4 linked regions of the Homo sapiens genome follow. The protein of the gene in region 1 interacts with the protein of each later gene in a pairwise test. Each region holds a gene or a part of one and is shown on either strand. Other genes may lie near its edges. The genes, in order: PAXIP1, RNF32, EPB41L3 and MAST1.

Region 1 (7,669 bases):
ATTCACGATTATGTTATGTTTGTGGCTTATGTAACTCAATAACCACAAATATTTGAAAAATTAAATCCCTTTAAAAAGACTTAATTTTTATCATTCCTTTAAATTATTGTATTTTATAATCTATTCAGACATAAATTTGTAAACCTAATAGTGGTGAATTTAAATAGTTTCTTCTAATTTGTAAGTTTTATGAGTGCTAGAGACCAGCTGACTGTACACAAAAATAACATTTCTTTTTAAAGTAAATGTTTTTGTTTTCTTTAATGAGCACATAGCAAAAGCTTGTGCAAATGGCCTAATAAAACTACCTTTTATACTCTTGAAGTTTAAAAGTTTCAAATTAAGAAGAATGAAAGAATTTATAACTTAAAACCAACAGAAACGGGGTATGGTTATTAGTTGTTGGGGAGAGGGGACATGGTTGACCCTTGAGGTCCTTAGCCCTTAGTGAGTTAGAAGTTTTGAGGATACAAAATTTAGAATAATTTAGCTGATAAATTGGGTCAGGCAAAGGCATCTAAACATTGCTTTCCTCTTAAATCATCTTTGTTTAAACAGTTACTGTCTTTCAGTGATTAAAAACTACCTATCTTGTGAAAAGCGAGAGAAAACTTGAGTGAAATATAGTAAGGCTGTTTACCTAAGTGTTTTACTTAGATTTCCACAGGAAATAGTCAAGTTATTTCTGAAATGTGAAATGCCAGCATTCTATACAAACTAGGAACTCAAGAGCCTACTGGATCCCAGCCTTTTAAGTGTGAAATTATCTTTTTCATATCCAAAATTTTCAGTGACTCCTCTTCATGGCAGTAGTTTTGTTTTGTTTTTTGGTATTTGTTAAAACAATTAAAAATAACTTTTTTTCATATTTTACTATTTCAACAGATATCTTTTTAACTTGGAAAAATCATATGTAAACCATATTACATATAGTCATATGTTATTCAAGCAGATGATATTTTTGTATTAATTGGTTCATAAATATTCTGCTGTGTACCTGGACTTCATATTTTCCTAAAATAACTTGGGTTTTTCTGGAATGGGTAGTCCAGAAATTGAAAATCTCTAGTAGAAATTTATCATCTGGGGAGAGCTATATAACATTTTATGCTTTTAAATATTTAAGAACAGCATGATTTTTTAGGGTAAAGAATAAGACATTTTATTGTCGAGGGTATAGGTAAATTGATGTACTCTTACATAGCTGTTGGAAGTGTAATTGGAATAGCCTTTTTGGGAAGGGAAGTGTAGTTAGAGATATGAAGCCTTAAATCTATTCCTTTTCAAACCTCAACACCAAAACCTAGGAATTTGTCATAAAATATAACTGCAGTTTTTCATAGTAGTGAAACACTGGAAACAACCACGTGGCTAACACTGGGGGATGAACTAAGGTACACAGCTGTGCAACCGAAGAGGAAACTGTAAAAGCCTTTGAGACTACTGGGGAGATCTGAATAGGGCCTGAGGATGAGGTGAATCATAGTTCATTGTGCTGCTATGATAATTATGGTGGTTTAGAAAGTCTTTATCAATTTGAGATCCGTAAACAAAGTTCAGGAGAAGCAAGATTTGTAAAAGATTGCCAGTTATTAAAGCTGGGTGACAGATACAAGGGATTTATTCCACTAGTCTCTAATTTGGTCTGCGTTCGAAAATGTACATTAAAAAGTTTGGTCTGCGTTCGAAAATGTACATTAAAAAGTTTGGTCTGTGTTCGAAAATGTACATTAAAAAGTTAAAAACAAAAGCATAAAAGTATACATGTTTTCATAGGAAGAGGTTGTTCACAATATATTAAGTGAAAAAGGAACATTATAAAGTATTTGTTCACTATGACTATATGTTTTTTCCCTTTGCCCTTTTAATATATGTACATATATATTTATAACAAAAATAAATTTAAACTATACCCTAAAAATGTTAATCGTGGTCCTTTCTAGTCAGTGTGATTATGATTACATTCATTTTCCTTTGCTTAGCTTCTTATTCATGGGTGTCTCCCATGACTAGGTTTTTCTTATATTTTAAAAAGGTTTGAGAAAGAACAAACTCACAAACACAAGTTAAGTCACTGAGCTGTGTGCAGAGCTCACTATTTGCAAGGATCTCCCAGATGGGCAATGCCTGGCGTTCGCTGCCAGGACCGAATGACCAACAGCTGTCCTCTCTGTGCTGCTGCCCCGCATCCCTATTGCGTGTGACTCTTATTCCACCCAGAAATTGCAAATGCCACCTTGGGGCTCTGCAACAGGACACGGAGTTTAGTTTAGGGCCCTGATTATGTGTTTGCTAGAGAATTGCTGTTATGTGTTAAGCTTTTAGGAGCACAGCCAAATTTACAACTCATTTATTTTAAGGTTACTTTATTGTCATATTACTCTTATTTAACATTTTTTATTTATTTCCTCTTTCTTTGTTATTCCCTCCCCTGTGCCTTCCACATTCTACACCCTTTACCACAGGAGAGGTCTCTGTTAGCTTGCCGAACATACTACTCCGGACACATCTTTTCCAGTGGGCTGTATTTTCTGCTTTCATTCTAACTGTGCAAATTGTCATCATTTGTGCCCCAGCCAAAGCTCACCTTTCAACGGGGCTTTCCTCCTGCCCTCCAGCTTATGTTGATGAGATTCCCTTCCAGTCTGTTACTGCATCATTCAGCAGTGGTTTTATATTGTATTTGCATTCCGTATTTAATATCTCTTTAGAACCAAATTGTGAGCCTTGTTAGGTCAGAGACTTGTTGCATCCTTTGTGTCTCCATCCCTTAGTGCTGCTTGGCATATAGCATGAGCTCCATAAATACTGGATCTTGAATAGAGCTGTCCTATGCAAGTCAGCCAAGTCAGCCATGCTCCATGAGTGTACGTGATGCATTGGCGGCACTCTGCCACGCTGTTACTTTACTAACTGTCATGGAAAACCAAGCTTCTAAATATTATCAATCAGTAAAAACTTAGGTAGCAATTATTCATTTCATAATTTTCCATAGGATTACTAGCTCTACTTTTGTACTTAAAATATCATTTTAAAAAGTTAATTTTCAGCCAAGTCTTTTAAGACTCCTGCTACAGGTGTGAGACCTTCCTATGATCACTGCTGTATGGTTCCTTTTCACTTTTGCCTCATGTCCTCTGTCTAAAAGATCAAACGTTGCTTCTGTATAAAATTGTAATAATAGTTGCTCAACATTTCAACTGCATTCCTTGACTGAGTTTTTTCTAAAATGCGTAATTGTAGGAAATGTGATAAAATTTACAGCTTTGTTTTGTGTGTGTTTCTGCTTTCCTCGTAGGAGAAATACGAATGTGCTTTAAAGCGAGCAAGTATTAAAATTGTGACTCCTGACTGGGTTCTGGATTGCGTATCAGAGAAAACCAAAAAGGACGAAGCATTTTATCATCCTCGTCTGATTATTTATGAAGAGGAAGAAGAGGAAGAGGAAGAGGAGGAGGAAGTAGAAAATGAGGAACAAGATTCTCAGAATGAGGGTAGTACAGATGAGAAGTCAAGCCCTGCCAGCTCTCAAGAAGGGTCTCCTTCAGGTGACCAGCAGTTTTCACCTAAATCCAACACTGAAAAATCTAAAGGGGAATTAATGTTTGATGATTCTTCAGATTCATCACCGGAAAAACAGGAGAGAAATTTAAACTGGACCCCGGCCGAAGTCCCACAGTTAGCTGCAGCAAAACGCAGGCTGCCTCAGGGAAAGGAGCCTGGGTTGATTAACTTGTGTGCCAATGTCCCACCCGTCCCAGGTAACATTTTGCCCCCTGAGGTCCGGGGTAATTTAATGGCTGCTGGACAAAACCTCCAAAGTTCTGAAAGATCAGAAATGATAGCTACCTGGAGTCCAGCTGTACGGACACTGAGGAATATTACTAATAATGCTGACATTCAGCAGATGAACCGGCCATCAAATGTAGCACATGTAAGTCACTCTTTCCGAAAAAAATGTCAGTATTGGATCTTAGAATTGGATTTCACAGTCTATTTCAATGTAGTTTATTGGTTTTGCTTTTTCAGACCAAATAACTTACAAGCAGTATTTGTGTGAGAACCTGTTTACTTGTGTGTGTGTGTGTGTGTGTGTGTGTGTGTGTATGTGTATATATGTATATTTCAGGGTCATTGAAAAAGGGTAACAGCGTATTTTAAGTTGAAGATTTAAAGCAGCTGAGTAGAACCAGGATGTCAGTGATGGAGTACTATCCGTTGAAGGGTTTCCACTCTTACTTAGTTTAAAATTAGCAATGGCAGCAAAGAGAATAATGAAGTTTACCAGCTGTACCTGATTTGCTTATAATGAACTTCATGGTAGTAAATAAATAACACAAATTCATGCATTTGTTGAGGAAGGCTTGATTTCAGGTTACAGTTTATATAGCATGGAGCTTATTGATACAGAGTGGATCTTAAGTTTTGTTGCTGGTTGTTTTTTGTTTTGTTTTTGTTTTTTTTTTTTTTTTTGAGATGGAGTCTCACTCTGTCGCCCAGGCTGGAGTGCAGTTGCATGATCTCTGCGCACTGCAACCTCCACCTCCCGGGTTCAAATGATTCTCCTGCCTCAGCCTCCCGAGTAGCTGGAATCACAGGCATGTGCCACCATGCCTGGCTAATTTTTTTTTTTTTTTTTGTATTTTTAGTAGAGACAGAGTTTCACCATGTTGGCCAGCCTGGTTTTGAACTCTTGATCTCTAGTGATCCACCCACCTCGGCCTCCCAGAATGCTGGGATTACAGGTGTGAGCCACCACGCATGGCCTTAAAAGTTTTAAGTACATATATTTCTATTTAAGACAGAAAGAAGGTAGTTGAGGTGGTATATTGGCCACTCTGCATTTTTCTGGGCACTGGAGATAAAATTGTGACTAAGAAAACTAATTTAGGTAGAGAAGACATACAGTAAGTGGAGAAATATGAACAAAAGGACTGTTGATGGTGAAAGGTGTTTCAAAGAAAATAATCAGGGTCCCGTAATAGCAGGTGAAGGGAAGGAGGCTATTTTAGACGAGATGGTCAAGAAGGACCTCGGGCAGGAGGTGACTTAGATCAGGGTTGAATGACAAGGAGAGGCCATGTGAAGAACTGAGGGCACAGAGTTCCCAGGCAAAAGGAAGACCCAAATGGCATGAATTTGCTGAGTTCTAAGAAAAGAAAGTTAATGAAATTTGAACTTCATAAGGTGAATGAGTTCTAGGAAGGATTTAAAAGGGGCCTTGCCATATAGGGCCATAGTGAGGAGTATGGTCTTTCTTGGAAGGAAGCCACTGGGCTTTTGAGTTGGGGTGAGATGCACTCTGTGTAAACAGTGGATCTTTGAGGGGCAAGAGTGAAGCAGAGAGGCCCCTTAAGAGGACATAGAGTTGGAGTTTGAGACAGAAAAAAATGAATGGGAGGATCCAGCTTTCTGGCTTGAGCGAGTGAAGGAAGATGATGCTGTTTCAGAGATAAGGAACACTGGAAAGCTGCAGGTTTGAAGAACCTAAGTTTCTTTTCAGATGTGTTGGGTTGGAGGTATCTGATCCATGCAGGGGCTGTCTGCTACGTGGTGGAACCAGAGAAAACAAGGCTGACTGAAGCTGTGGAGGCGGATGTGAGAATGTGTAGTAGGTGGGGCAGAGCAAGAGGAGGGTCTGGGGCCAGGCTCTGAGGAGCCGCACCATTGAGAGCCAGCTGGGCTGTTCCATCTGATGGTGACACCCCGTCTGCCGCTTCACCTTGTTCTGGACACTTTCATTTCATAATGACAGCTCAAAGTCCCAGAAAAATGGCTCTGTAGCATATAGGAACAACCTGAAGCCGGATCCAGTATTCTCCACATCCACTTTCAGTGGAAAGGCTTGATGTTGATGAAGTGGGGAAATTCAGTATGGCGTAGGTATAAGGTGATGTTGACAATGATCATTTTATTGGGTATGATAATAGCAGTGGTTTACGTAGTGTTTAGAAATGCTGTGGGACAGACAAAATCTTTGTCTCCCCTCCCCTCCACCTAAGCAGCGAGTATTAGTAGTACACGGTTCTTGGGATGATGACAGCGGTTGGCTGGCATCCAGAGTAAGATAGAGGCAAACATGCCCTTTAGATGTTAGACAGCAGACAGTTAAGATGGTGGGGGAGAAGGTGAGCAGAGAGAGAAGGTCATCGGGTTTGAGGAGAATAGAAGATTTTCAAATAGGTGATTCATAGATAGGGAAGACTTTGGGTTTCTGGCTTGAGAGGTGGATGCCTGATAAAATGCCGAGCTGGCCTTCCTCAAGTCCTGGGTGGTGACAGTGCCTTGTAACTGAACAGCAGCTGCCCGTTAGGAGCTCTTGGGCCTGCTTCAGTGCCCACCGCTCCATGTCACCTTGTTGGGTCCCGGAGGAAAACAGGCCTGCCACTGACCATGGGTCTTGGGGGTGGTTGGGAATGTGTGGCTGAGGAAATGGGGAGAAGGCCACCAAGATGAGGAGGTCCAAGAGCTGCAAGGCCAGGGATTGTCCAGGTGGGTGCCCATGAGAGCGCTGGGGTCAGCCGAGTTTAGGGAAAAGGTAGATGCACAGAAGGAGCCAGCTCCAGCACCGCCCAATGCTGAGGGTGCCGGCCCTGGTCCCTGCACATCCGCGTCCAGGCAGGTGGGCGGGATAAAGCCACAGGGCACAGCCTCAGCCACAGAGCAGCAAAGTGACGATCACACAGTCGTCCTGAGAGCCAGAGGATGTCATGACAGGTAGAAAGTAAAGGCCATAAAGAATGACAGGCTAGAGGCAAAGAGGATTCTAGCATTTTTGACCTCAGTCATGAGAAGAGTGATGATACTGCTGAGGTGGAGGAATTGAGAAGGTGACCCAGTCCTGGCAGGAAGACTGCGGCCACGCAGTGGACCTGTCCTGTCAGCAGTGGGATATGCGAGATATGGGCCGTAAAGATCTCTCTCATAGGGTTGGTGTGAGAAATCATGGATTAAGCCTCTGGCACTTCGAGAAATGGCTACTTTCTCACTTTCTTTAGGTGAGAAATTATGGACAGAAGTCATCCATTTGAAATAGGAAATTTTCTTTGCTTTTCATTTATCTGTGGTGTCAAAAAGTGTTGGTCAGTTACTGCTGGTTAGTTACTACTTATTTCTAATATATATGTTTTGGTTGTTTTTTGAGACAGAGTCTCACTCTGTTGCCCAGGCTGGAGTGCAGTGGTGGGATTTCTGCTCACTGCAAACTGCACCTCCCTGGTTTAGGCGATTCTCTTGCCTCAGCCTCCTGAGTAGCTGGGATTACAGGTGCCCATTACCACGCCCGGCTAATGTTTGTTCATTTTTATTAGAGACGGGTTTTTGCCATGTTGGCCAGGCTGGTCTCGAACTCCTGACTTCAGGTGATCTGCCTACCTCGGCCTCCCAAAGTGCTGGGATTATAGGTGTGAGCCACCGTGCCTGGCCTTATTATGTTTTTCAAATACAATGGATGTTGGTTTAAATATAAAGTTCCTTAAGTTTGTATTTGGATATAGAGACAAAATAATTTACTTTGAAATGGAAAGAATTGACTGCAGTAGGGAGTTTGGGCACATCTCTGCACTGGAAATTGTCCTTAGGAGACAAATTTGATATACTCAGCTGTGTGCTCTAGCGGTGGAAAACTGAGAAGGCTCCATCCATTTCTAGTGAGTGAATGGATTTGATC
Region 2 (7,669 bases), 1.7 Mb from region 1:
GAATCAAGCAGCTACAAGTGTGATGAACGCTATGGAGAATGGTGTGCAGGATGCATGGGGCTGTGACCCCAGAGAAGGTTACTTGACCAAAGTGGCATTAAATGGAGACCCGCAGGGTTAAGAGTAACAGCAGCAGGTGAAGGGGGAGGTTTTCTAGATGGAGGAAAAGGATGTGCAGATGGCCATTAGTGAGAGAGCACCTGGCCTGCAGAGAAACAAATGAACAGTAAGACTGAAGAGGCTGAGACTGAGGTTGCGGAGGAGGGGCGCTGCCTCAGGGCAGCTCTTTGCCTTTGGCTCAAGGTGTGGGAGCAGGGAGAGACAGGGCCCCCAGCACCACCCTTCCTCTTAGACTTGGGTGGGCACTTGCTGTACAATCCAGACTCTGCTATGGTCAATGTCAACTGCCTCAACTTCAAACATCCACATCTCCCCATCATGCAAACCTGGCCTTATATTTATAAACTAATCAAGACCTTAGAACGGGAGGGAGAATAGGTAAATTGTATTGACAGATTTCAGCAAACTGCTGTGCTCTCTGGCCACAATGTAATAATGTTTAAAATCAATAGCACGTCCAGCACCCATCTTGCCTTTAGAACCCCACTGCGCGTCAGTGGAAATGGGCTCAGCCTCACAGAGGTCTCTTGATGGATCTAAGCATGTCGTGGAAGTCTTGCTACCCTTTGCCAATTTTTAGACTATCAATGGGCATGTGACCGTCTCAGGTGAAGCGGAAGGAAGGTCTGTTGGGAGCTTTCTCCCCTGCCTTTCTGGCTCCTCCCTTGTTGTTGAGGACTGACCCTGGGGCTGTGCACCCTCTTGTGTCCATGCACGGGGCAGCACCTCCCGACGGCAGCACCGGAAGGAGGCTGGTCCCGGCAAACATCAATAAGCCACCAAACCAGAACTGCTGTGAACAATGACACACACCATTAAGCTTTACATCACTTTCAGTGTGTTGCTTGTATATTTGCAGCCAAATGCATCCTAACCCATCACCTCTCCTCACCCCGCTTAAAGGAAAAAAAGCCTCAGGCCCAGATGATTTTACAAGTGAGTTTCCCCAAACTTTTAAGGAACATATCATCCCTATTTTCTGTTATTCCAGAATCCTGAAAAAGAGGGAACACTGCCCAACTTATTTGGTGAAGCTTATATGGCTTTGATAATAAAACCAGACAAGGACAATCATAGTCCAGGGTAATCCATGGTTAAACGTCAAACATCGTAAACGAGAATTAGTTATCAGAATGCAACAGTGAATGTGAAAAACACCGTGGGCAAGTAGGGTTTATTCAAGCTATGCACGAAGATTCAACATCAGAGTCTGTCACTGTAATTTACGGCACAAACAAACTCAAGGAGAAAACCCACAACAAACACGCTCATCTAAAAAGTTGCAGGAAAAAAAGCATTTAAAAAAGTACACCTATTAATGAGTTTAAAAACCTGTAGCAACTGGCTAAAAGGGAAATTTTATAATTAGATAAAGGCCAACAAACAACACAAAACAACAATAAACAAAGGGCAAACATCACATAAGTAAGTAAATGAAACGTGTTAGGCTAAGGAACGAGACAGAAATGCTAGGTATTACTACTCGTATTCACCACAGCTCAGGAGATCCTGGCCAGATTAAAAAAAAAGCAGGGAAAAAAAAGAAGGGGCATAAAAGTAGAGAGGCACAGACAATAAGAATCACTGCAGAGATCAACTTACTCAGAAAACCCCTAGGAATCAGAGACAAAAAGACCTAAATGGTGTGAGATGCTACCATATTTGTGGATCAGATGATAACACTGTAAATACAGTATTTCCCCGATCTATAAATCCAATTCAAAAAAAATCTCCAGCAGAATTTTATGTAGAAAATGAGGCAGTTTTAGGAAAAAAAAAAAGAGGAAACGTCTTTTCCTAGCAGCTATTAAGACATATTGCAAGACTCTATTAATCAAAACAGTGCAATACTGACATAGAAGCAGAAGCCTTGGAAGGAGAGAACAAAACACGCTTTAATCTCGTCGATTTTCCCAGTATCATAAGCAAAACAAACTGTGGTGACATCTAAATGTGAAAGGTAAAAGGTTAAAGGTAAATAAAGAAAATGTAGGAAAATCTTTGCACTCTCAGAATGGTGAAGTATATCTAAAGTCTCTCCCAAACAGCAATAAAGTGAAAAAAACAAAACAAAACAAAACAATGGATTTAACATTAATCAGAATGAAAATTGTATTCAATATAAAACAATAGATATAATTTAAAAGATGGTAAAAGAACAGAAGATATTTTCAGTGGCTAAATCAACAAGAGATTACTATGTAGAATATGCAAAGAACTCCAGTAAATCAGCAAGAAAAGACAGAAATCCAAGTGGAATATTATGTATAGACAGTAAAGAGCATATGGTTCAATGTCATTAGTAACTAATACGCACAATCAAGATTTTTTCCATAAAGAGGTCCTGAAAAAAGGTCTCATCTATTTTCCTTAATAACTTTACTTATTTTCCAAATTGGGACGTTCCTCTTTATATCTAATTTAAATTTTTCCTGATAAAACTCTTAAGATTGATTATGATGAAACTATTTGGTCATCTACATAAACCATACAGGTACAACAGAAGATCTTCACTAAACTACTGTACGACATTATTCCAAGTCTCAACACGTTCATGAGCCATGCTGTTTTCTAGAAGACATCGAGCTTGTTAGCAGAAGTTCAGAGGAAGACAGCATCAAATATCTCCCCTGGCGTCGCTGTGGAAACAGGTCCCCTCCACCTTGTGTGACTCCAACACACAGATCTTCCAGCACCTCCAGATCCATCTGACCTGCGCCAAGACACGCCATCCTCAACCAAACCTATTTTCCATGCCTATCAATAAAAAATCATATTTCTAACTTTTCGGTTTAAAATAATTTCAGATTTACAAAAGGTTGTAAAAACAGTATGAAGAATTCTCAGCAAAGGACTAGTATCCAGAACCTACGAGGAACTCAAACAAATCAGCAAGAAAAAAAAAAAACAAATAATCCCATCAAAAAGAGGGCAAATGATACGAACAGATATTTCCCAAAAGAAGATATGCAGATGGCCAACAAACATGAAAAAATGGTCGTCACTCGTCATCAGGGAAATGCAAATTAAAACCACAGTGAGATACCACCTTATTCCTGCAAGAATGACCATTACTAAAAAGTCACAAAACAACAGATGTTGGCGTTGATGTGGTGCAAGGAGAATGCTTATACACTGCTGGTGGGAATGTAAATTAGTACAACCTCTATGGAGAACAGTATGAAGACTCCTTGAATAACTAAAAGTGGATCTATCCCTCGATCCAGCAATCCCACTACTGGGTGTCTACCCAAAGGAAAAGAAGTCATTATATGAAAAAGATGCATGCATACGTATGTTTATTGCAGCCCAATTCACAACTGCAAAGATACGGAACCAACCTAAGTGCCCATGAACCAATGAGTGGATAAAGAAAATGTGGTATATATACACCATGGAATACTACTCAGCCACAAAAAAGAATGAAAAAATGTCCTTTGCAGCAGCTTGGATGGAACTGGAGGTCATTATTCCAAGTGAAGTAACTCATGTTGTATGTTCTCACTTATAAGTGGAAGCTAAGATACGAGTATGCAAAGGCATACACAGTGGTATAATGGACATTGGAGACTCAGGAGGCGGAGGGTGGGAGGGTGTGGGATAAAAAGACTGCACGTTAGGTACAGGGTAGGCTACTCTGGTGGTGGCACTAAAATCTCAGAATTCACCACTATATAATTCATCCATGTAACCAAAAACCACTTGTACCACAAAAGCTATTGAAATAAAAATAAATAAAAAAGAAGAAACACACACAAAAAACAAACAAAAAATTAAAAAAAAACAGGCCAGGCATGGTGACTCACGCCTTTAATCCCAACACTTTGGGAGGCTGAGGCGGGTGGATTACCTGAGGTCAGGAGTTTAAGACCAGCCTGGCCAACATGGCAAAACCCCATCTCTACTAAAACTACAAAAATTAGCTGGGTGTGGTGGCACACACCTGTAATTCCAGCTACTTGGGAGGCTGAGGCACGAGAATCACTTGAACCCGGAAGGCAGAGGTTGCAGTGGGCCAAGATCGCACCACTGCACTCCAGCCTGGGCAACAGAGCAAGACTCCATCTCAAAAAAAACAAAACAAAATGAAATTTCAACATGAGTTTTGGAGGGGACAAACATTCAAACCATAGCCTAGCCACTGTGAGCTATCAAAAGACCTCTGGTACCTATCAACATAGTAATATATGTGAGTAGTGGATAAGGAACAAAGTATGAAAAGTACTTAGCTTGATGCTGTGAAAAAGTCTTCCAGACAACAAATGTAAGTGAAGGATTCCGTTCTCATTGATGCCTAATCTAAATGGAAGTTCTCCCCTATCAGGGACATACTTGATGTACTGGGTTGAATTGTGTCATCTCAAAATTCTTATTCACCTGGAACCTCTGGATGTTGACCTTATTTGGAAATAGGGTCTTTGCAGATGTAGTTAAGATGAGGTCATACTGGTTTAAAGTTGGCTGTACATCCTATGAATGGTATCCTTATAAGAAGAGGAAAGGGAGAGTACAATCACACCTAGAGAAGAAGGTTTTGTGAAGTCAGAGGCAGAGATTGGAGTGACGCTGCCACAAGCTAAGCAATGCCAGGAACCACCAGGGAAAGGTAAGTTAGGATTCTTCTGTAGAACCCTGCCAACAGCGCCATTTTGGACTTCTGGCCTCCAGGACACTGAGAGAATACATTTCTTTTGTTTTAACCCACCCAGTTTGTACTAATTGCTTGTGGCAGCACTGGGAAACGAATATCCTTAAAAACAGCATTTACAATTATAAGTGCATAATACATCTCCTTTTATTAATTAGAAGAAATGGAATTGATTTGCATGCCTTTATTTACAGGCACAAACTTGTAGCAATACCATACACAGTAAGAATGTGTGTGAAGTTGCATGCTATATGCATCCCACCTATCATAAAGAATTTCAATCAGCCATGACGGAGGTAAGGCTGACTTATTTCTATAGAGAATGACATTACAGAATTATTGTCACATGAAAATATGATCAAAGAGTATCTAGCAATCAAAAGAGATGGAAAAAGTATTACAGAGATATTTCAGGCAGCTAACTAATACAAAATATTATGCTATTTTTATTGATTTTTGTTTGGGATACATTTCATGTTGTTTTGAAATTCCTGATTTGTTGCAAGTTTTGGTCTTACTCTAAATACATATTCACACTTGCAAAAAGAAAATATTATCGTATGTTCTTAACCCCAAATGTTAACCTTTTATATAACCCTGGTACAAAGATCAAAACCACAAAATTAATGTTGCTATAATCTATCAATTAGCCTACATGCCTTCTGCAGATCTGGTTCTCTGTCACACTGATGTCTTTTTTCTGAACTAGGATCTGATCCAGGATCACAGATTGCACTTGCAGCTATGTCCCCTGGGTCTCCTGTAATCTGGAACAGTTGCTAGGTCTTCATTTGCTTCTGTTGACTTGATACTTTTGAAGAGTACTAGCCAGGAACTGTGTGGAATGTCTTTCACTTGGACTGGTCTGAGGTTTCCTCATGATTAAATTCAGATATACATTTTGGTAAGAATGCCACAGAAGTGATGTTGTACCTTTCAGCAGGAGACACATGATGCTGGCCCGTGCGTTACTGCTGACCTAACTAGGATTACTTGGTTCAGGTGCTGCTTGCCAAGCGTTACAACTGTACAGCTGAAGTAATTGTGAAGTTATTGTTTTTCTCCCTGCCATGTACTTGCATCTCTGGAGAAACTACCTCAATATTCTGTGTCTGTACGTAAATTTTTCTCATTCCTAATTTCAGTATTGATGATCATTACTGTGGTGTTTGCCAAAGGTGATTTTCTATCCCCGTCTACTATCCTTATGAGTTATATTCATTCTACTATAAGGGATTTTTCTTTTCCATCATTTATTTACTCAATTATTTATTTTTATCAATGTGAATCAATAGATATTTCTTTTGTTCTCCCATTTTTACTTATTCTACTTACCATTACTATCTTTACCTTCTTGCTCTAATGGTCCCCTATCATTTTTAAACTTCAATACATACATACCTTCAATACATACACACCTCTCTGTATAATTATAAATAAGTTATTTCTGTAACATAAAAAATTATACTATTAATCTCAATAGATTTTTTTAGCCCTAATAAGCCAAAAGATGAATGACTACGTCAGCTTACCCAAAGTCAACGGCGGCGGTTTGGGATCAAGAACATATTCTTTTTCTGAGTCTTCTAGTTTGGGGCACTGTGTAGTTTTTTTAAGTCCAGTATCTATTATTGCCTTTGTATCTCTTTTTAGAGATTTGTTCTCTTTCTTTTGTACTTGTGTCTTAGAATGATCTGCAACTGAAAGATTTCGAAGTTGAAGATCATGTAAAATGTGATCTTGTAAAGCAACTGCATTGACTGCCAAGTTATCTTTCTTAGATGAGTGACCCTAAAAAGTAGGAAAAAAGTCATATTTAGAGGAGTATTATGTAATATATCATTTAGAAGAGAACTGAGGCTTCAATACTCAACCTTGATGGCACATACAACCAAATCAAATAGTAAGGAATGCTTGACTCATTGTTACCTAAGTAGGAGCAGACCCTTGTCTCAGCATTTATGTTAACAATACAGGAATATCTTTTCATTTAATTATGAAAGCCTTAATTATAATATGAATAAATTCATTATGACCCATAAACCTGTGCATGCCTAAACAAACCCACGCTGCTTCACTATAATTAAATTAGACTCCAGGCAACTACTAAGGAGACTCCTGCCATTTCAGCTTATGCCTTTTTGTGAAAACTTAATAATTTCCTGTGCAGAATAAAAATCACCAAACAGCTAAGAGATGCTTGCAGTAAATATCGCCAGAGATTGTTTTTCCATTGGCTTGTCCACTGCCCCATGCGACACTTGGCATCGCCCATTCCTGCTGACAATTCCTAGTTCAAGCAGGGTTTGCAAACTAGTTTTTATACTCTCAAATGGCTGAATTAAAATACATTTCATGAGTCAAATAACGTGTATGTTTAAGAAAAGAATAGCGTACCTTATTTTTTAACATGCCGAATTAGGAAAAGTTGTTGCTTGGCTATCACAAATTCTATCATCACATCCTATCACCTTCCTTCTATTCTTCTGCTGCAAAGACGTGGTCAACAGAAAGTCAAAGTTACAGTGCACAGAAAAACCATGAAGTTTGTGAGGATGCTCTGTAAGAGTCTAACAGATCCTGAAGCAGCAGGAATGCCTGCTACAGGGTGGCACTAAGCTACACATTCTGGTTCTGGAGGAAGGGGGTGAACTCAAGTCAGTTATGCTTCGACTCATCCCTGTCCTCAAATAGTTCACCCCTGAGCTCCTGAGGACACATTAATACAAATGGTTAATTACTATGAATTAATCCATTGCTAAATATAACATGATACATAAGTACTACAAAACTTCAGGCTAACACTGGAGACTTGGAAAAACCAGTTAAACTGGCATTTGAAAGATACACAGAGGGAAATGAAGATGGCACATTACAGGTAGGAGGAAAGAACTGGCAGGC
Region 3 (7,669 bases), on another chromosome or scaffold:
TTCTCCTGCCTCAGCCTCCCGAGTAGCTGGGACTACAGGCGCCCGCCACCACGCCCGGCTAATTTTTTTGTATTTTTGGTAGAGAAGGGGTTTCACTGTGTTAGCCAGGATGGTCTCGATCTCCTGACCTCGTGATCCACCCGTCTCGGCCTCCCAAAGTGCTGGGATTACAGGCGTGAGCCACCGCGCCCGGCGGAGAGAGGGTTCTTGAGTAATCTACCCTGGCCGTCTTTAATTCCCATAGTCTCCCCTAAGTACCCCATCAGTTTTCCGTGAAATATAGACTCACCATTGAAACCTATGAATCAAATTTATCTTTAGCACCACTTCAGTTAGAGAGATCCTTAATCGTGCAATCGCTGCATCTATTTCTTTCAAACGGCTAGCTAGCTGCTGATTTGTTGGGAATTCATCAGGCACTCAGCCCGGGAGGGTTCTGCTGTTATTTGATTTGCCTTGGCTGTGGGGAATTCTGTGCTCAGAAGCAAGGACTGGAGCAGTGAAGTCATTGTCCTGCCTGGTGTTGTGACATCACTATGGCTCAAAGGAAACAAGGGTGGGGCAGGCAAAACCAGACCATCTGAAGCATCTTGCTGGCTTTAAAACTTTGCCTGATCAATCAATGAGACTCCTTTCTCAAGTTGAACTGCATTGCGAGGTATTGTTTGGAGAATTGAAAGGTGTAAATGAATATAAGACTGCATGGGAAAATGTGTCTCCAAGAGTAAGGAAGGAGACGTTTTTTGTTTGTTTGTTTTTTGTGAAATAGTAGAAAGCACTGAATATTCCTTTTGTAGAGAAAACTGTAATTTTTTAGAAGGGCCATTTACAAAATTAAAGAACAAGAAAAATGAGTATATTTTTATTTATATATTGAGGCAACATATTTCTTACTGTTCTTTGTACTAAAACAGCATTCTTTTTAAATTCTTGATTTAGGTTATTAGTAATGTCTTTTAAAAAAAGTATGTGGTCTCTCTAAAGATGCAATTTACTTATTGGGTAGGCAATGTTCTCATTTATTTTTAAGTGATGTGATTGCAGTTGGCAATAGGAAAAAATGGAAAAAGGTGTTTCATAAGTAGAAGATATCTGCAGTGATTTGGAGTAATTGATTTCCATTTCCATTTTTGTTTTATGTACTAATTATTTTATAATTTAGCATTTTAATCCTAATTTAGAATTCTAGTGCAGAGATGATCAGAGACATATTTCACCCAAATTAGTGTTGAATAAATGATAAGACTGAAATTCGGAAGCAATAAAGTATATTTCATGTTTTCCTTTCTGAATTTATAGTAATATCAGCATAAAAAATGAAGAACCACAGAATGGCTGCAGATGTTCCTTGTCTTTTCCATGACTGACATTTTTCATGTGAGTGTATTATGTATGTAGGAGCTCTGGGCAGTTCTTTCTTAACTATGTAGCAATTCCAGAGCACAGTTTCAAAGCATAAAGAAGAAACAAATTGGGAAGAATGGCACAAGAAGACAAGTTGAAATTAGATGCCAGAACTGCAGATTACTTGGTTGAAATGTCTTTGGTGTTGCATTTTTAGTCCTTGCGATGATTGGTTAAATTGCATACTTTGGAATTGTAAGCTTCTATTAGCACCAATTCTTTTGTAATTTGCAGTACAGAGAAAAAGCTGACAACTTAATTTTTAGATTGCTGACATTTTGATACATTGTTCTTATAACCCTGCCTTACAAACTAAAAACAGAGAGAGAGAGAGAGAGAGAGAGAAAGCAGAAAGGTCTATATTAGACCTAGAAAACAAATGTAATATTTAACCTGCCTTGAGTATATATTTTTCTCTCCAGTTATATTGGGTGGGTGCTTGATGAGGATAGGGAGTTATTTCTCTTCAGGTTTCTTTCCCAAACCAAGTAAAGGTCTAGACACTTAAAGCATTCAGTAAATACTTACGAAATTGTATAAAAAATGGGGCCATTTGTAACTTACGCTTTACTACCAAAAAAAAAAAAAAAAAAAAAAATCTTGGAGAAAGCTTAAAAAGCACTGCTGCTTTATTTAAAAATGAGAATTACCAGACTCATGTATGTAGTCATTATTTTTAATGGCGTGGTCCTCTTCATAACAAGGTTGTTACCTCTGTCTGTAGCTCAAATTGGTAGATCCTAGAGGTTTTGCCATATCAGGGAAGAGAATTCTGCAGGTACCAAGAGAAAAGAAGAATGGTTTCTTTGAGGGAAGAACTGCAGGGAGTCGGTTTCCTTTCCTGCCAGCTCTAATTGGTGTCATGGAGGACATCAGTGTGGAGGGTGTCCTCTGAAGAGGGGAGGGATCAAATGGTAGGGTGACAAAAGCTGAAAAGGATTAGTGCTGGGAGATGATATTGATCTCCTAGCATTCAACTAAAGAGAGGAAAACTATTTTCTGTTTTAGCTCTCTCTTCTTTGGTCATTTTTGTACATGCCTGTGTTTACATCCTCAAATAGCGAGTTTCTTTGTATTTGATTCAAGCCCCAAATTTCATCATTTCTAAAAGAAAGTTATTTTTTCACATTTAACATCTCTGAAATTGGGATATGTCTTACATGGCTCTCAGCCATGTTGCAGAGAAAAAGCTGGCAACTTAATTCATTGTTTGTGAATATGCATCAAAAATTGGACATTGGATGTTAGTGGATTGGAGAAAATCCTGGAGACAGTAATGGAGCACTCTTAAGTGATACATTTCTAGTGCTCGTGGTGACCCAAGTTGATATTGTGTGGAAAAGCATAGACAGCAGTAACTCTTAGTTGACGTGCAATTTGGTAGAGTTGGATTCTGAATATGTAAGAATTTTTGGGAACACCTTGGCCAATCTATTTTGTTTATATTTTCTTTATGCGTTGAATAACTCAATCAGAGTTCTTTAGATAAGAAGAAAATGAAAATTCCAGTTTCTAAAAATGTGTGAGTCATAGCTTAATTGGCAGAGTGCTATACAACATGATGTTATCTCTTATAATCAGTGTCATGAATCTTATGAAATATGGTTTATCATTTGGCTATGCAATTTTTTGAAATGTACTTTATAATATGTAATGCTTATTTTACACTGTCCATTCTGTGTATCAGTGATTGTTTTTCTATGTATTATTGATTGTTTCCTATAAAAGGATCCTTTTATAGGGAAAATCTATTGAAAATTCTTCATTTCCCATTTTGACTTTCCATTTTGGCCTTGGGAAGATGACTGGATTTTGATAGAGACTCTCAATTAGTCATTGAGAAGACATTCCAGATAGGACATTCCAGAAGTCAAGAGACCTGCCTTTAGCTGGAATATAGCCTGTATGCTGGGGAGTAATGGGAGGTGCATCTAAGTAGGGAGTGTGAGGCCTGATTGTGGAAGGTTTTTGGATATGAGACTAAGGGATATTTGGGGCTTTGCTAGGTAGTGGGGAGTTATTGAAAGTGGTTGAGTAGGGAAGAAGAATATTTTTTCTGGTGATAAGTGTAGGATGAGTTGGAAGAATAGGAATCTGGAGACAGATGGTCTTTAGTTAATGGAGTTATCCAAAATTTTGCAGAAATTGAATGTGATGTTTTTTTCTCTCAATGATTGATATTTTGGCAATTCATTCCATCTTTTTGTGGGAGTATTTAACTGAGGATTAAATACTACTTTTGGATTGTTTAAGGTAGAAAATGAGATATACGAAATATGGGAAGATTTTCCTTATCCTTTCAATGAATGTATCTCAGTTATTTGAGATATTAAAAATAATACATTCTCACTTTAAAATATAGTCTAACAATACAGAAAAACCAAAAAAGGCAATGTCATTATCTACCTTTCTGAATGTATTACGTATCAGAGTGGAATAGGACACACCTGGGTTGGGCTCTCGGCCTTGCTATTTAATAACTATGTGGCATGGTTCTTTTAACTTCCTAGAGCCTGTTTGCTCGTTTATAAAATGGGCATAATGCTTATATCTGAAGGATATGAGGATTAAATGATGTAATACATGCAAACACTGAGCACAGTATCTGGTATATCACAAGTGCTTCATAAATAGCAGTAGCATCATTTTGTACATATACAGACTCATATGTAGATTACATAATATTTTACATGAATAGACTTCTGTCTTAAATACTTCTATGTAACCATTTTTTGTTTGTTTGTTTCGTTTGTTTGTTTTTTGAGAACAGAGTCTCACTCTGTTGCCCAGGCTGGAGTGCAGTGGCACGATATCAGCTCACAGCAACCTCTGCCTCCCGGGTTCAAGTGAGCCTCCCAGGTTCAAGCGAGTCTCCTGCCTCAGCCTCCCAAGTAGCTGGGATTATAGGCAACCGCCACCCTGCCCAGCTATTTTTTTTTTTTTTGAATTTTTAGTAGACATGGGGTTTTACCACGTTGGCAAGGCTGGTCTCGAATGATCCTGACCTCAAATGATCTGCCCGCCTTGGCCTCCCAAAGTGCTGGGATTACAGGTGTGAGCCACCGCACCAGGCCAAATTTTTTTTTTTTTTAAATGTAACAGTATGTCTCGGAGGAGCTTTTTCATGCATGCAAATCTATACCCACATCATTATTTTTAATGGTAAATAAATATTTTCTTTTGGTCTTGTGCAATATTGATAAAGGATCATTACCTTAATGATGGTGTTGATGTGAAGCCTTGTTGTCCAGCCCCTCTGCCTCCTTCTGCTTGCTGCCTACACTTCATGACTCTCTTCTAATATACACATCAGGAGGCTTGTGGTAAAACAGGATATTTAAAAAAATTAAAATCTCTGATGATTATTATGTATATCTCAATGTTGTGTGTGAATATTGAGTTCTAACAAACTAAAACAAGCAAATTTTCACCATAGATTTCCTGACTTTTTTAAATTTAGATTTTAATGTCATCTCTTTATAGAGGGGCGAGCTCATCCAGCAAAGCCTAACCTGAGTTCCTGGGTGCCCATCATTCTCCCATGTGCCTCTTGGCATGCCTCGAGGGACAGCAGATGCAGCAGTCTGGACCTGAACTAGACTCTCCAGAATCAAAATATCCAGGGTCTGGGATAGTTTAGTAGGTGTACGGGGTCACTGGGCTCCCAGAGATGGAAAATATTAAGCTTCCTTTGATCTCTCTCTGAGTTCCCAACCCTTCCTTCGTCCTCAACAACAGAATGGTAACAAATGTCATATTCCATTCACAGATTTTATGCCACCTCGTCAGGGATGTGGGCTGCTCTGTTATGTTATTCACAATCCCATGATTTTGACTGATCTTGGATTTACTTGGAATCCAGTCTTCATTCACCAATTTGGGGAGAATAGCTTTATGATCCTGAAGGTGGTGCTAGCTGGAATGGTGCACCCAGGCTTCTGTGAGATGATGCCATCGGGGCATCTAGAGGTCTCAGGCTGGCCCGGACAGTTGCATATTTCTACGTAATTTTTTCCTAGAGTTACTAACATCCCAGAGATATAGGGAGTTTTGGGTAGTTTCATTACAGAGAATTATTCTTGATGAATTTTGGTGTTTTATACCATTTTGTGCTACTCAGTGACAACTTTTATTAACTTTAGAAGGAATATGCTTACTGGCTAAGTATAAGACTTGGAAAATAGAGATTGACTAGGTTGTCTGCTCAAGAAGTCTGGAAAACTTTTCCTCTGAATTCTTGAAATGAGAGCAGTAATTCATTGGGGGGAGTTATATTGTAGAACAGGGGTCCCCAACCTTTTTAGCACCAAGGACCTCCATTTTGCTTACCTCCTGCTGTGTGGCCCTGTCCTTGGCACAGAGGTTGGGGTTTCATGGAAGACAGTTTTTCCATGGACGGGGGTTGTGGGGGATGGTTTCAGGAAGAAACTGTTCCACTTCACATCATCAGATTCTCAGAAGGAATGCACAACCTAGATCCCTCACGTGTGCGGTTCACATTCTCACATTCTCACTCAAGAATGTGAATCAAATGCCACTTCTGATCTGACAGGAGGCGGAGATCAGGTGGTAATGCTGACTCACCCACCGCTCACCACCACTGTCCTTGGCCCAGTGGTGGGGAATCCTTGTTGCAGAATAAAGAAAATACAAAGAGCTAGAGAAGATACAGATGGAAACATCTGCTAACCTTGAGCTAGGTAACTGTGGGAGGAGTACTCTATTTCTCTAGGCAAGGTTCCCCAGAGTGAACAGATGACGATGCTGCCTACCTCCAGGTTGAAATGAGATCTGTGTTTGAAGACATCTAGAACCAGTCTAATGAGAGTATACACATAGTACATGTTTTCTCATTTCAGTAGTATATGCTGTTGTCCTCTTTGCTTGTTTTTAGGGACATGTCTTAGTAATTGTAAGATCCAAAGATGACCCTCAGGATGAGTGTAGAATTTTGTGACATTCCACCACAAAACCCGTAATCCAAAAGATGGCCCTCTATGAGAATGCAGAATTTTTTGAGTATGAAACTCCAGATAACAGTAGAGGTTTGCAAAGAATGAGACACAGTGGTTATACAACAGAATTACCTGATGAGTTTATTAAAAAGGAATTTTTGGGGACCAATCCACGGATTATCATCTAATAGATCTGCAGTTGGATCCAGACCTCCTTATGTCCCGACAAGTACTTTGGTGAAATCTGATCCAGGTGGTCCCAGGACCACATTTTGAGACACACTGTCTTAACGACTTTTGTCTTAATGACTTTCCAGCTTCTTCACTATTGTCAAATGAGCGTTTAACCTGGAAAGAAGATATAATATAAATAAATAGTACTAAGGTTGAAGAAAATGTTTAGCATAGAGCAAAGAAACCTGGCCTTGGACTCAGAATGCTTGGGTTTCTTTTTTTCTTTCTTTTTTCTTTTTTTTGAGACGGAGTCTCGCTCTGTCACCCAGGCTGGAGTGCAGTGGCGAGATCTCGGCTCACTGCCAGCTCCGCCTCCCAGGTTCATGCCATTCTCCTGCCTCAGACTCCCAAGGAGCTGGGACTACAGGCGCCCGCCACCACGCCTTGCTAATTTTTTGTATTTTAGTGGAGACGGGGTTTCACTGTGTTAGCCAGGCTGGTCTCGATCTCCTGACTTTGCGATCTGCCCATCTCAGCCTCCCAAAGTGCTGGGATTACAGGCGTCAGCCACGGCGCCCGGCCTTGGGTTTCTTTATGGCTGGTCCATAACTTCTGTGGCCCTAGGAAATTATGTAAAATTTAAAAGGTTAAGGAAGTAGGATAAAAGGTTAGTTTTCTTATCTATTAAATAGGGATAATGATAATTATGTAGCATAATGGTCAGAATGGTTGAGTAAGAATCTAAGTGAAAGTACGTAGCTCTTAATATGTCTTCAGTTGGGGTTAATTTTCTTGCTTTGTGATCGGTAATAGAGTAAAATGGCCTTGAAGAAGAGATGCTTCTATGAGTAAATGTGATCCTGCTGGTCAAAATCATACTGAGCTATGTGGGTCTTACAGATACTTTTAAGATATTATGAAGTTCTTCACTTATATATGTGAAACTTGAGATGATTAAAAGCTTTCTTTACAAATGTTGCTATGTTTAGTGACATTCATATCAATGGTAAATGGTCAGACTACATTATAATTTATTAGCATTTTTTCCTATGCTCATATCCGAGAAGGACACACACACTCACATAATCCACATAGGGGGACAACAAAACAAAAGTCACTGTATATCACATTTGAAT
Region 4 (7,669 bases), on another chromosome or scaffold:
TCCCAGCTACTCGGGAGGCTGAGGCAGGAGAATGGCGTAAACCCGGGAGGCGGAGCTTGCAGTGAGCCGAGATTGCGCCGCTGTACTCCAGCCTGGGCGACAGAGCGAGACTCCGTCTCAAAAAATAATAATAGTAAATAAAATAAAATAAAATAAAATATTAAACTTAGCCGGGTGCGGTGGCTCAGGCCTGTAATCCCAGCACTCTGGGAGGCTGAGGCAAGTGGATCACCTGAGGTCAGGAGTTCGAGACCAGCCTGGCCAACATGGCGAAACCCCGTCTCTACTAAAAATACAAAAATTAGCTGGGCGTGGTGGTGGGCGCCTGTAATCCCAACTACTTGGGAGGCAGAGGCGGGAGAATCGCTTGAACCTGGGAGTCGGAGGTTGCGGTGAGCCGAGATCACACCATTGCACTCCAGTCTGAGCAACAAGAGTGAAACTCTGTCTCAAAAATAAATAAATAAATGAAATAAAATAAAATATTAAACTCTACTCACATTTATCACCCACTTTCTCCTCAGTTTCTCCTTGACACTCAGCACCATCCATCATACTGTGTATTTTTGCTTATTTTATTTCATGTCTATCCTTCTCCAATGTCAGCCCCATAGTTGGTGAGGGTGGGGGGGTGGAGTTGTCTGTTCTGTCCACTGCTGTGTCCCTGCTGTTTGGAACAATACCCAGCACACAGTAGGTACTCAATAAATGTTGGGTAAATTGATGCTTGAATGTCCCTTTGCAGTGGCATGCACCTGTAGTCCCAGCTAGCTACTTAGGAGGCTGAGATGGGAGGATTGCTTGAGGTCAGGAGCTTGAGACCAGCTTGGGCAACATAGCAGGACCCCATCTCTAAAACAATTTAAAAAATTTAAGCCAGGCGAGGTTGCTCACGCCTTTAATCCCAGCACTTTGGGAGGCTGAGGCGAGCAGATCACGAGGTCAGGAGTTTGAAACCAGCCTGGCCAATAAGGTGAAACTCTGTCTTTACTAAAAATACAAAAAAGTTAGCCGGGCTTGGTGGCACGTGCCTGTAATCCCAGCTACTCAGGAGGCTGAAGCAGGAGAATCGCTTGAATCCGGGAGGCAGTGGTTGCAGTGAGCCGAGGTTGCGCCACTGCACTCCAGCCTGGGCAACAGAGTGAGATTCTGTCTCAAAAAAAATAAAAATAAAAATAAAAATAATTAGCTAGGTGTAGTGGCACACACCTGCTGTCCCAGCTACTTGAGAGGCTGAGGCAGGAGGATCACTTGATCATTCATTAATTCCACCAATATTTATTTATTTATTTATTTTATTTTTTTTGGAGACAGAGTCTCACTCTATCCCACTGGGCTGGAGTGCAGTGGTGCGATTTTGGCTCACTGCAACCTCCACCTCTCAGGTTCAAGCCATTCTCCTGCCTCAGCCTCCCGAGTAGCTGGGATCACAGGCACCCACCACCATGCCTGGCTAATTTTTGTATTTTTAGTCGAGGCAGGGTTTCACCATGTTGGCCAGGCTGGTCTCTAACTCCTGACCTTAGGTGATCCACCTGCCTCTGCCTCCCAAAGTGCTGGGATTACAGGTGTGAGCCACCATGCCTGGCCCCCACCAATATTTATTAAGCACCTACTATGGGCCTGGCACTAGCCTAAAAGCTGGGAAATCAACTGGAAATAAAACAAAAATTCTTGTCTTTGGAGAGCTGACATTCTATTAATAGCAGGAAGAGACAGAAGATAAACAATAGGCGTTAGAAGCTAACCCCTGTAATCCCAGCACTTTGGGGAGCTGAGACAGGAGGCTTTCTGGAGCCCAGGAGTTGCAGACCAGCCTGGGTAACATAGCGAGACCCTGTCTCTACAGTAAAACAAGTCAAACAAACAAAGACCCAATAGGTATTAGGGCTGAGACCAGGACCAGGGTAAAGCAAGTAATTATTTCTTCCCCCAGAACATTAAATTAATTTTTGAAAAACTTGAAAAGTAGATAAATGAAAACCCAACATTATTTTAAGTTTACATATTTTATTTATAACCAAGCCAGAATGTGTTATAATTTTACTGTCCTGGTTTTAATGAAAGCAAACTCATCAATAATACTATTTTCATTGAAACCATTAGACATTTTCAAAGACACATTAAAACACATATAGGTTGGTGCATACTTTTTTTTGGCTCAAGTTACAATATGGCTAGGCACAGCCTGTTGGATTCTGTCTTTATTTAATTTTCTTTTTCTTTTTCTTTTTCATTTGAGATGGAGGACTCTCTATGTTGCCCAGGGTGGTCTTGAACTCCTGGGCTCAAGCAATCCTCCTGCCTCAGCCTCCTGAGTAGCTGGGATTATAGGCATGTACCACCACATCTGGCTTAAATTTTGATATTTTGGCTTATGATAGATTTTTGGCATTAATTTTAGGCTTTTCAAGTATTGCAATAAGATATTAGTTTTTTCTTTTCTTTTTTTTTTTTTTTGAGACAGTCTCACTCTGCTACCCAGGCTGGAGTGTAGTGATGTGATCTCGGCTCACTGCAACCTCCACCTCCCTGGTTCAAGCGATTCTCTTGCCTCAGCCTCCCAAGTAGCTGGCATTACAAGTGTGTGGCACTATACCCAGCTAATTTTTGTACTTCCAGTAGAGATGGGGTTTTGCCATGTTGGGCAGGCTGGTCTCAAACCCCTGACCTCAAGTAATTCACCCTCCTCTGCCTCCCAAAATGCTGGGATTACAGGCGTGAGCCACTGTGCCCGGCCTCTTTTTCTTTTCTTTTTTTCTTTTTTTTTTTTTGAGACAGGGTCTCTCTCTCTGTCACCCAGGCAGGAGTGCAGTGGTATAATCAGCTCACTGCAGCCTTAGCCCCCTGGGCTCAAGTAATTCTCCCACTTCAGCCTCCCAGGTAGCTAGGACTACAGGCACACACTACCACACCTGGCTAATTTTATTATTTGTAGAGACAGGGTCTCGCTATGGTTTTGTTGTTTGTTTGTTTGTTTGTCATTGCTTTTGTTTTGAGACAGAGTCTCGCTGTGTCACCCAGGCTGGAGTGCAGTGGTGTGATCTTGGCTCACTGCAACTTCTGCCTCCCAGGTTCAAGGGATTCTCCTGCTTCAGCCTCCCAAGTAGCTGGGATTACAGGCACCTGCCACCACGCCTGGCTCATTTTGCGTTTTTAGTGGAGATGGGGTTTCACCATGTTGGCCAGGCTGGTTTCAAACTTTTGACCTCAAGTGATCCACCCACCTCAGCCTCCCAAAGTGCTGGGATTACAGGCATGAGCCACCGTGCCCAGCCTCATTATTTTTACTGTGTGGCTTGGGCTTCAGTCTCCTCACCTGTAAGATGGGACAGTAGCAGCAGTATGTACTCTGAGGGGCTGAGAGAGGGGCCGGGCTGAGGCAGAGTGCCTATGAGCCCTGTCCCTCTGTGTCCCCTGCCACAGGCCTATGAACGCTCTGAGAGCTTGGAGGTGGCCTTCGTTACTCAGCTGGTGAAGAAGTTGCTTATTATCATCTCACGCCCTGCGAGGCTGCTGGAGTGCCTGGTGAGGGGGCTGGGCATGGGTAGGGGTGGGTTGGTAGACCCTGGGAGCCTGTGGTGAGCCCACTCCTGCCCTGCCTCAGGAATTCAACCCCGAGGAGTTCTACCACCTGCTGGAGGCGGCCGAAGGACACGCCAAGGAGGGCCACCTTGTGAAGACGGACATCCCCCGCTACATCATCCGCCAGCTGGGCCTCACCCGTGACCCCTTTCCAGGTGCCGGCTGGTGGGCGCAGGGGGACTGGGGGTGAGCAGGCCCAGAACCCAGCTCGTGCTCACTCTCAGTCCCTCCCTAGATGTGGTGCATCTGGAGGAACAGGACAGTGGTGGTTCCAACACCCCTGAGCAAGACGATCTCTCTGAGGTAAGGCTGGGTGGCTAAGCGGTCAGTACCCTGGTTCCTGGGAGGGCAGGGTGGGGCTCATCTCCGGCTTCTTTGCCCTCAGGCTTTGTGGATCTCTTGGTCCTACACTCTGAGCCTCAGTTTTCCCATCCATAAAATGGGATTAATAATAGCTCTTCCAGAGCCTGGCATGCTGGCTCATGCCTGTAATCCCAGCACTTTGGGAGGCCAAGGTGGGCAGATCACCTGAGGTCGGGAGTTCGAGACCAGCCTAACCAACATGGAGAAACCCCGTTTCTACTTAAAAAAAAAAAAAATGCAAAAATTAGCCAAGCCTGGTGGCACATGCCTCTAATCCCAGCTACTTGTGAGGCTGAGGCAGAAGAATCACTTGAATCCAGGAGGCAGAGATTGCTGTGAACTGAGATTACACCACTGCACTCCAGCCTGGGCAACAAGAGCGAAACTGTCTCAAAAAATAAAATAAAATAAAATAAAATAATTGCTCTTCCCCTGTGACCTCTTTGTCATGTTAAAATCCATGAAACATAAAATTTAATTTACTTTTTTAACCATTTTATTTTATTTTTATTTATTTATTTATTTATTTTTTGAGATGGAGTTTTGCTCTTGTTGCCCAGGCTGGAGTGCAATGGCACTATCTCAGCTCACCACAACCTCCATCTCCTGGGTTCAAGCAATTCTCCTGCCTCAGCCTCCCGAGTAGCTGGGATTACAGGCATGTAACACCACACCCGGCTAATTTTGTATTTTTAGTAGAGACTAAAATTTCTCCATGTTGGTCAGGCTGGTTGCAAACTCCCAATCTCAGTTGATCTGCCCATCTCGGCCTCCCAAAGTGCTGGGATTACAGGCATGAGCCACCGCGCCCGGCCTTTTTAACCATTTTAAAATGAACAATTCGGGGCCGGGTGCAGTGGCTTAGGCCTGTAATCCCAGCACTTTGGGAGGCCAAGGCAGGAGGATTGTTTGTGCTAAGGCATTTGAGACCAGCCTGGGCAGCATAAAAAATCAGCTGGGCGTGGTGGTGCACCCCTGTAGTCCCAGCTACTCGGGAGGCTGAGGTGGGAGGATCCTATGAGCCCAGGAAGTCAAGGCTTCAGTAAGCCATGATCACACCACTGCACTCCAGCCTGGGCAACAGGGTGAGACCCTGTCTTGAAAAATGAAATTAAAAATAATAAAGAATAGGCCAGGTGCAATGGCTTATGCATGTAATCCTAGTACTTTGGGAGGCCAAGATGGGTGGATCACTTGAGGTCAGGAATTCGAAACCAGCCTGGCCAACATGGTGAAACCCCATTTCCACTAAAAATACAAAAAAATTAGTTGGGCGTGGTGGCACATGCCTGTAATCCCAGCTACTTGGAAGGCTGAGGCAGGAGAATTGCTTGAACCCGGGAGGTGGAGGTTGGTGTGAGCCAAGATCCCACCACTGCACTCCAGCCTGGGCAACAGAGCGAGACTCTGTCTCAAAATAATAATAATAATAATAATAATAATAATAATAATAATGATTAATAGTAATAAATAAACAATTCTGCAGCATTTAGTAATTCACCATGCTGTACAGCCATTAGATCTATGTAGTTGCAGAACTTTTTTATCACCCCCAAAGGGAAACCTCACACCCATTACACACTCCCTCCTCATTCCTCCCTCCCTGCAGTCCCTGGCAACCACTAATCTATTTTCTCTCTCTGTGGAATTGCTTTTTCTGGATATTTCTTTTTTTTTTTTTTTTTGAGACAGAATTTCACTCTTGTTGCCCAGGCTGGAGTGCAATGGCGTGATCTCGGCTCACTGCAACCTCCGCCTCCCAGGTTCAAGCAATTCTCCTCCCTCAGCCTCCTGAGTAGCTGGGATTATAGGCATGCGCCACCACACCTGGCTAATTTTGTATTTTTAGTAAAGACAGGGTTTCACCATGTTGGTCAGGCTGGTCTCGAACTCCTGACCTCAGGTGATCTGCCTGCCTTGGCCTCCCAAAGTGCTGCGATTACAGGCGTGAGCCACATGCCTGGCCTTTTTCTGGATATTTCCTATAAATGGGATCGTATGCTCTGTGGCCTCTTATGACTGGCTTATTTCACTTAACATAACGTTTCTGAGGTTTATCCATGTTGTAGCTTGTGTCACTGCTTCATTCATTTTTATAGCCGAGTAATATTCCATTGAATGGTAGATGCATTCATCCACTGGTGAACATTGGGTTGTCCATCTTTCATCTGTTGTAAATAGTGCTCTTATGAATGTGGGTGTACAAATATTTGGCTGGACAACTGCTTTGAGTTATTTAGGATATACGTCTAGAGGTGGAATTTCTTGGTCATATGGTAGCTCTATGTTTAACTTATAGAGGAATCCTGCATGGGCTTTCGAGCAAGCTAACTGGCTGTATGTGTTAATGGCAGCTCAGCATGGGGAAAATTGCCAATTCTATTCCCAGGCCAGCCACACTTTGGCAGATGTTCCAGATGTCTAGTGGAGAGTCCTACCCCAATGGCCACACATGTGTTTTCTCTGAACTGCCTAGTATTTTTCAAAAATTTGGGCTGGGCCTGATGGCTCACGGCTGTAATCCCAGCACTTTGAGAGACTGCGGCGGGTGGATCACTTGAGGTCAGGAAGTCGAGACCAGCCTGGCCAACATGGTGAAACCCTGTCTCTACTAAAAAAATACATAAAATTAGCCAGGTGTGGTGGTGCCCACCCGTAATCCCAGCTACTTGGGAGGCTGAGGCAGGAGAACTGCTGGAACCAGGGAGACAAAGATTGCAGTGAGCCGATATCAAACCACTGCACTCCAGCCTGGGTGAGAGAGTGAGACTCCATCTTGAAAAAAATAAAAATAGATAAATAAAAGAAGCAAAATATAAAAATTGAAAGATTTTTGCTTCAAAATCTGGGTTTGGGCCTTCTCTTGAAAAATCAGAAGTTCTAGGGCTGGGTGTAGTGGCTCATGCCTGTAGTCCCAGCACTTTGGGAAGCCAAGGTGGCAGGATTGCTTGAGCCCAGGAGTTTGAAACCAGTCTGGACAACATAGCAAGACCCTGTCTCTACTTAAAAAAAAATAGAAGAAGAAGAAGTTCTAATAATACTGTGGTGGAACCAGCTGAGTGGGGGTGGTCCTGTGATATTGGGTACCTGCCCCTTCGTCATCCATGGCCTCCACCCTGGTCTACTGGCCCCTGAAGACGCTTAAGTTTGTAATCTTTATTTCAAATTGTGTCTATACAGTCACACAGATATATACACATACCTTTCCTTTATGTATATATTTAAAAGGAATCTCACAATATATGCCATTTGTTTAATTTTTTGAATAGGTAATGGAATGACATCACTCAAAATCTAAAACTCTAAAAAAAGGTATTTATCTCTCATTGTTTGTAGGATTCTGTTATTCCTTTTAATCAAACTTGTTAATTGAGTGATTCAAATCTTCCATCTCCCTATTCATTTATCTTGCCTGATTAATCTAATAGTTTCTGAGAGAAATGTGAAACCTTATTTTAAGCAAATTCTCCTTGTAATTCTGTCAATTTTTTTTTTTTTTTTGCCATTTTGGTTTTTATTTGATTATAGGTAAGAGTTCCATACAATAGTGTGCGAAGTATTGCAAACAATAAAGGAAAAATACAGCATAAGATACCTCTTACACTCTGCCCAATTCTGTCAATTTTTATGTCAGATATTTTTAGGCTACATTCTTTGGAGCATATAAGTTCAATATTTTTATATATCATAGATCTTTTTATGTAATATCTATGTAATAAAT

Evidence for each region.
Region 2: the proteins of PAXIP1 (region 1) and RNF32 interact in a two-hybrid assay, tested with the Homo sapiens proteins (one study listed by BioGRID).
Region 3: the proteins of PAXIP1 (region 1) and EPB41L3 interact in a two-hybrid assay, tested with the Homo sapiens proteins (one study listed by BioGRID).
Region 4: the proteins of PAXIP1 (region 1) and MAST1 interact in a two-hybrid assay, tested with the Homo sapiens proteins (one study listed by BioGRID and IntAct).

The regions. Positions count from the first base shown.
Region 1 is NC_000007.14:154,971,961-154,979,629, reverse strand, and holds part of PAXIP1 (PAX-interacting protein 1), read left to right. Parts: intron 1-3,298; coding exon 3,299-3,934; intron 3,935-4,724; exon of another isoform or gene 4,725-7,669.
Region 2 is NC_000007.14:156,643,389-156,651,057, reverse strand, and holds part of RNF32 (RING finger protein 32), read right to left. Parts: intron 7,258-7,669; 5' UTR 7,181-7,257; coding exon 7,166-7,180; intron 6,560-7,165; coding exon 6,301-6,559; intron 4,605-6,300; exon of another isoform or gene 4,498-4,604; intron 1-4,497. UniProt on the Homo sapiens protein: May play a role in sperm formation.
Region 3 is NC_000018.10:5,533,329-5,540,997, reverse strand, and holds part of EPB41L3 (band 4.1-like protein 3), read left to right. Parts: intron 1-573; exon of another isoform or gene 574-658; intron 659-7,669. UniProt on the Homo sapiens protein: Tumor suppressor that inhibits cell proliferation and promotes apoptosis. Modulates the activity of protein arginine N-methyltransferases, including PRMT3 and PRMT5.
Region 4 is NC_000019.10:12,848,508-12,856,176, forward strand, and holds part of MAST1 (microtubule-associated serine/threonine-protein kinase 1), read left to right. Parts: intron 1-3,426; coding exon 3,427-3,528; intron 3,529-3,607; coding exon 3,608-3,740; intron 3,741-3,752; exon of another isoform or gene 3,753-3,820; coding exon 3,821-3,888; intron 3,889-7,669. UniProt on the Homo sapiens protein: Microtubule-associated protein essential for correct brain development. Appears to link the dystrophin/utrophin network with microtubule filaments via the syntrophins. Phosphorylation of DMD or UTRN may modulate their affinities for associated proteins.